2 linked regions of the Homo sapiens genome follow. The protein of the gene in region 2 interacts with the protein of the main gene of each other region in a pairwise test. Each region holds a gene or a part of one and is shown on either strand. Other genes may lie near its edges.

Region 1 (3,500 bases), on a different chromosome or scaffold from region 2:
AATAACATTGTTCATTAATGCTATTACCAAAACATAACTATTGCACACCCTACTAAAACAATGTTATACACGCTGTATTTCAGAATATCAATGCTTTTAACTTCCAGGTTGTGACAGCCTCCTTCCAGATGACACTTAAAAATGCCCACCTCCTAGAATTCATGCCTTGTGTAGGAGTCTCCCACGTTGTAGTTGACTTGGTCTGTGTGACCAACAAAATACAGAATTGGTATGACACTTTCAGAGGCTAGGTTACAAAAAACATCATGGCTTCTTCCTTGCCCTCCGGTGTTGCTTGCTCTGGGGACAAATAACTGCCATGTTGTGAGAGGCCCTCTGGAGGGGAACATGTGGCAACAAACTGAGGTCTCCTGCCAACAGCTGTGAGTCTTGCGGGAAGCAGATCTTCTAGCCCCAATGACACCTTCGAAAGATTGTAGCCCTGGTTGGTAGCTTGACCAAAACCACGAGACTATCACCCAGCTAAACCACTCTCAGATTTCTGAGGCTCAGAAACTGGAGATAATATTTGTTGTTTTAAACTGCTAAATTTCGAGATATTGTTTTGTAGCAATGAATACATATTTTAATCCTTGTGGCATAAGACACACCGATCAAGAATTATCTTCTGCAAAATATTGAAAATAACCAGAATGTGTGGACATGGTTAAATAATGGCATAGTTGGCTGGGCACGGTGGCTCACACCTGTAATCCCAGCACTTTGGGAGGCCTAGGCTGGTGGATCATGAGGTCAAGAGATCAAGACCATCTTGGCCAACATGATGAAAACCCATCTCTACTAAAAATACAAAACTTAGCCAGGCATGGTGGCACGCACCTGTAGTTCCAGCTACTCAGGAGGCTGAGACATGAAAATCACTTGAACTGAAATGTAAGAAATACATTGAAAGCATAAAACTCAGGCCGGATGCGGTGGCTCACGCCTGTAATCCCAGTACTTTGGGAGGTCGAGGCGGGTGGATCACGAGGTCAGGAGATCAAGACCAGCATGACTGACATGTGAAACCCCATCTCTACTAAAAATACAAAAATTGGCTGGGCACAGTGGCGCGTGCCTGTAATCTCAGCTACTCAGGAGGCTGAGGCAGGAGAATCGCAGGAACCCAGAAGGCAGAGGTTGCAGGGAGCCGAGATCACACCACTGCACTCCAGCCTGGATGACAGAGCTAGACTCCATCTCAAAAAAAAAAAAAAAAATTAGCCGGGTGTGGTGGCACACACCTGTAATCCCAGCTTCTGGGGAGAGAGATTGAGGCAGGAGAATCACTTGAACCCGGGAGGCAGAGGTTGCAGTCAGCCGAGATCACGCCACTGCACTCTAGCCTGGATGACAGAGTGAGACTCCATCTCAAACAAACAAACAAAATAATAAATAAATAAAATACACTCACTGTAAAGCATGATCATGGCACAACAGAATGTTAATCCAGGTTAAGCATCCCTAATCTGAAAATCCAAAATCCAAAATGCTCCAGAATCAGAAACTTTTTCAGAGCAGGCATGATGCTCAAAGGAAATGCTCATTAGAGCATTTTGAATTTCAGATTGGGAACACTCAAAAGCTCAGTATAAAGCAAATATTCCAAAATTTTAAAAAATCTGAAACACTTCTGGTCCCAAGCATTTTGGATAAGGGATACTCAACTTGTACATACCATTAAAATAAACCAACAACTACAAATTCAGCAACATGAGGAACAGTTCACTGATTTATTAGATGAATATATACCCATATAATCAATGAAAACTGTATGATATAAAATAATTTAAGAAATGTTGGGAATTAGCAGCACCATCTGTTATTGAAATAGCAAGGAAAACTTCACATATTTTAAGCAAACACGAGAAGGGAGTAACTACTTTAAGACCTAATAATGCCATTGGTCTGGGATGAAAAAGAAGGGAATTGTTTTAGATTGTTTTAGGCAAACACACTTCCTTCTATGCTGAAGATTTAGTAAGCATATCTGATGACTAAGGTTTTAGAAAAATGCTACTGATGTAAGAGATACTGCATAGTATTTTAATTGGGACAAGACTAACTGTAGCATGGCTCAACACTTCTATGAAAAATTTAGTTCTGAATTATGAAATCAGAAATAAAAAATAATGTTTAAAAGACACTTGGCTCTAAGAAACATTAAGTGAAACACAGGTCACTATGAAAATACATCACTTTTCCAGTCTGCTTAATAATTTACTTTAAAAAGTTGCACAGTTTTCAAGACAAGTGGCTTATACAAATTTTTTAATAAGTATTTTAAAAAGTTTAAATGTTTTTCTAAAATCTAATAGATTCTTTTGATTTCTTTAAACATTTAGCCCTATTGTCACAATTACTGTGTATCAGAGACTCTGAATACTGTGTATTCAGAGACTGAATTTGTGTGGATACAAATTTACACAAATTTTACAGCAACTTATACCCTAACATCTACAAAATCCACATTTACAATACAAGCAAGTACAAGGCCAGGATAAAACTGCTGAATTCCAAAAAGTCAAACTGTATATTTCTTTTAATTTTCTCCCCTTAAAAAAAGTTCAACATCGGCACCAAATTTAAAAAGCCCTCTTATATCCTAAGTTTGGAAAAACCTCATTTCCCAGATGCATTTCAGCAAACACAAACAGTTTTCCTGTGTTGATGAAGTAAAGGATTTCCAATTTTCTTCTGGCCCCTAAGTCTGCGTCGCATGGTGAGTTTAACAGAGTTCTTTCGCTGTGAGGTTGTGGGGAGACTTGCAGGCTGAGCACCACTACTTCGACTTAAGCCATTTCGTCTATGCTTCTTCATCAGGGGGCCAGAATTGGACTCTTCTAATGTCCTTTTAAAGTTTGTTGGAGGGGTTCTTTCAATTTCTTGGGCTTTCATTTGGCCAGGAGTTGACATCTTCAAATTTTTTTGGTCCATGACAGTGTTTGTTGAATTAGTAGGCACAAGGCCAATTGGAAGGCTATTATTCAAAGAATCATGTATCCTTAAAGTCAGGGCTTTAGCGCAATTTTCTTCAAGTGGTTCTGGATCTTTTGAGGGTATGACTACACCTTGGACATTCTCTCGAGCTATCTCAGCTGAAACCTCTAAAAAATTCTCTGAGAAGGCATTGCTACGAACCAGGGCAGGTATATGGTCCTTAGAATTCACCCTTGGCCATGGATCCTCCTCCAGTGACTGAAAAATAAGAAGGTAAAACAAATAAGAAAAAATTTATCCCAGAACTCAACAAATCTATGCATGTGATATTAGGCTTCTTATGAAGCTAGTAGGATGGCAAAAACGGGGTATGCATTCACTAATTCGTTCACCTTCTATTTACTGAACTATGTGTTAAGGTTTAATGGGAGGAACCTGAGTGAGAAGACAATATAAAGGTAAGAATGACATTGAATTCTGTCTTCAGGGTAATAGATGAAATTATAAAGTAATCTATTCAAGTGGGTGAAAATTCACGTGGTCACAAGCATTTTCTATCC
Region 2 (3,500 bases):
AGTTACAGAACAGTAGGGGAAACGGTGTGGACGTTCAGAACTCCACGCGCCTGCACAAAGTCGAACCTCGTTAACTACAAGGTTCGACGACACTCAGTGATGGGCAATTGAGGTCCAGGAGTTCAGAGCACACCAAGGGCTACTGCCCAGGCTACTCTGCTTGGAATGGAAAAGAGACCAAACCTAAGAGAATATTTCTAAGGACACATTGATAGGCTTCTTCCAACCCTAAGTTTCCAATCTAGGTGAGTGAGAAAGTGGTGGCATCGTGAGAGCTAGAGGGTCACTGATTAGAGAGGCAGGTGGTTCTATTAAGTATGCTTTTCCTTCCCTTCCTCCCTCCCTCCCTCCCTTCCTTCTTTTCTCTCTCTCTCTCTTTTTTTCTTTTTTTCTGTAGAGATGGTGTCTGTGTTTCCCAGGCAGGTCTCAAACTCCTGGGCTCAGGCAATCCTCCCACCTCAGCCCCTCAAAGTGCTGGGATTACAGGTGTAAGCCACCCCCTACACCTATTTTCTGTATTTTGTTGCTTTGACAACTAAAGCCTTGCTGGCCCTATAGGGACTGCCTCCCTCAGGGCTGGCCAAGTCCTAGGGATAGTGAAGGAGTTGCCTGCAAGTGTGCCTTTCATATGCAAACCAACCAATCCAGAGCCCACAGCCCACTACCTCCCCTATGGGCCCTCACACTCCAGGCCACTGTTCCCCTGCCCTAATCCCCCTAGAGCCAGGTGACAGACAACTAGAGACAGCATCCAGGCCCCAGAGCCGGCTAACATTATTCAAACAGCTAATCCTAAACCTGCTCAACCTGCCTCGCCCATTCCCTCCCACAGAAACCCTCTGCCTCCTGATTGACCCCAGAGCTTCCCCATGTGACCCCAGCCATGGTGCTGTGGCATGCCCCCTTTTCTTGGGATCTGTAACAAGTTGTCTTATCAATGACAGCCATCTTGCAATCTGTGGGCCTCTCTACACCTCAATAATAATAAAACCTATCTTTTAAAACAGTGATGCATTCAGTTGTTTCAAGTGTGTCAGGGAGGCAGTAAGGTACAAAGTAAAGAGCCAAGGAATGGAAGTCCTGAGTTCAAGTCCTAACTCTACTTCCAACTTCATACAAGTCACTTAACTTCTCAGGGGCTCCCTTTCCTAGATATACGGCAGGAGTGGCACATGTGTACGTTGCGTGTGAATTTAATGAGATAATGAACAGAAAGTGCTTTCTAAACTCTCAAGTTGAGGTGTCAGTGTAATTCCCTTTCCTGGTGTATTGTATAATCCTTAGCTCCAAGAACCACCTCATAAACCTCTCTTGGGCCCATCACCCTGTGGTTAGCACACAGTCAGTGAAGAAAGTACCCTGAGTGGCAGTGCCTCAGATGTAAAGGGTGCAAATGTCTCACTCCCTCCTTCCCCCCTTTGTGTCCTCAGCCTTACCTCCCGGGTGGAGCTCTCCACAAATGGCCCCCCAAACATGGCAGCCATCCAGTCACAGCTGGAAATCAACAGGGGCTTGTGGGCGCTGATGGTGCCATCATCCAGGATGAAGGTCACATCTGTCCAGAAGAAGCATCACAGGAGGACTGGTGAAAGAAGCTGGGAGAACAAGCCCCAAGGGGAGCCACGGAGCCTCCTCCTGAACCCAGAAGATTCGGGGCACGGAACAAACCCGCTCCCAGCTGGGGAAAACCAGGCTTCAAGAGCATGGCAGCCGCAGCTCCAGGACACCAGGAGCTGAGACAGACAGGCAATGCTAATAGCACCAATGCAGAACCCCCTTGCTTTCCAAGCCTGTTCCATACCTGAGAAGGTGCCTTTTGCCAAGCACTCCTTAACCCGGTTGGTCCGGCGGACGTGGAAGGCCTTGGTGATCTCCTGGTTCATGAAGGCCTCATTGTTGAGAATGTTGGCCACCATCATGCGCAGATCAAAGACCTCGAGCAGCTCAGCAATGTGGGCAATGTGCATGAGGTCACGCTCGTTCTCATCTAGCTCCCCCGTGTACAGGTACTTGAGGACAGCCCGGAAGGGCCCCGGCTGGATGGAACTGTCCATCTTCACCACCACCATCAGCCGGGATTTGTAGGTGAGAGGATCTTCTGCCATCTCTTCCTGGATGCTCACAAAAGCTCGGCTCCAGGAAGACAGCACACGACCCCTGCCCGGTAGGTACCCTGTTCCGTTGCCCCGTAAGATCCCGTCGCTGGTGGAAGCACGGAGGCCAGCAGGACCGGAGCCCCCAGCCTCATCCACGCTCTCGCACACGTCAAAGCTGGCTGCTCGGAGCAGGAAGTCTCGCCCATGGTGGTGGTGGTGATGGTGGTGGTGTTGATCAGAGTGGCCCTGGTGGTCCTCTGGGTGGGTGCCCCCTGGCTCCGAGGGGCCCCCCAGCTCCCCCTCACTCAGGTCCATGAGGAACAGGTCATAGAACTTGGAGGAAGAGGTGGAGAGGTAGATCTTGTGGGCAAAGATGCGCACCCGCTCCTGCAGCACCAGGATGACGTCCGCGCAGAGCGGGTCCTCCAGGAGGTGGGCGGGGCACTCCTCGCTGCTGGAGGGAGGGTCGGGCACCACGATGATCGGGGGCGGTGGCTTGGGGGGTAGGAAGGGTGCCTGCAGCAGAGGCCGCTGCACATTGCGGAGGTGGGACTTCCAGAACTGCAGGTGGCGGCGGGAGATGAGTGCAGCTCGGATGGCGTTGTCAAAGACGTCCTTGATGCCGAACTGGGCCACCACGCTGGTCTCATAGTAGGGGATGCCCAGCTCCTTGGCCACCTCCCGACCCTTCTCTGGGGGCAGGATTTCATTAGGTTTGATGGGCCTGGTAGGTTCAAGAAGGAAACCAAGCTTGTGTTGGTGGTGGAGGGAGGCTGCCTGTTCTTCCACAGGCTGGAGGGACTCTGCTCAGGATCTGGGTGCCAATCCCCACCCACTCCTGCCCTGCTCTGTCTGGCCAAATCCCATCAAGCTCCTTCAAGGTCCACTCCAAGCCCTTTTTCTTCCAGAAAGCTTTCCCTACTATGCCAGGCCCCAGTGACCTCCCCAGTACAAAGCCGTGACAGCACTGCCTCTCTGGCAATTAGCAGGCAATGCTTCACATGGGTATTTAACATGCTCACATATTTAGTTTATCCCTCAGCAAAATTATAGGACTTTTTCATGCAAATATCACCTCTTCCTCTCTATTTTTCTTCATGATGCTTTACATAGCACTGCCCACACCAGAGGTGTGCAACAGGTATATGAATGAATGAATGAATGAGCATGCTTGTTGACTCCCAATGCAAGCTTGCTCCAAATGGAGGGAGAGATATGAGGCTCAGTGGAATTCCCCCAGGGCTGAGCAGGGAGCCATGGTGAGGCACCCATCCATGTCTGTCTCCTTGGTACCAGCACCTCCTACCTAGCCAAGGGTCGCCTAGCCCTGTTGACAGCCTCCAGGTCAGCGTAGCGCAGGTCCAACTGGCAGCCCACCAAGATGACAGGTGCTCGGGGGCAGAA

The links. The genes of interacting proteins can lie anywhere in the genome.
Region 1: the proteins of RHOBTB2 (region 2) and PPM1D interact in a two-hybrid assay, tested with the Homo sapiens proteins (one large-scale study listed by BioGRID and IntAct).

Annotation. Positions count from the first base shown.
Region 1 is NC_000017.11:60,662,693-60,666,192, reverse strand, and holds part of PPM1D (protein phosphatase 1D), read right to left. Parts: intron 3,199-3,500; coding exon 2,641-3,198; 3' UTR 1-2,640. UniProt on the Homo sapiens protein: Involved in the negative regulation of p53 expression. Required for the relief of p53-dependent checkpoint mediated cell cycle arrest.
Region 2 is NC_000008.11:23,006,048-23,009,547, reverse strand, and holds part of RHOBTB2 (rho-related BTB domain-containing protein 2), read right to left. Parts: coding exon 3,403-3,500; intron 2,821-3,402; coding exon 1,802-2,820; intron 1,556-1,801; coding exon 1,437-1,555; intron 1-1,436. UniProt on the Homo sapiens protein: Regulator of cell proliferation and apoptosis. It likely functions as a substrate-adapter that recruits key substrates, e.g. MSI2, to CUL3-based ubiquitin ligase complexes for degradation. Required for MSI2 ubiquitination and degradation.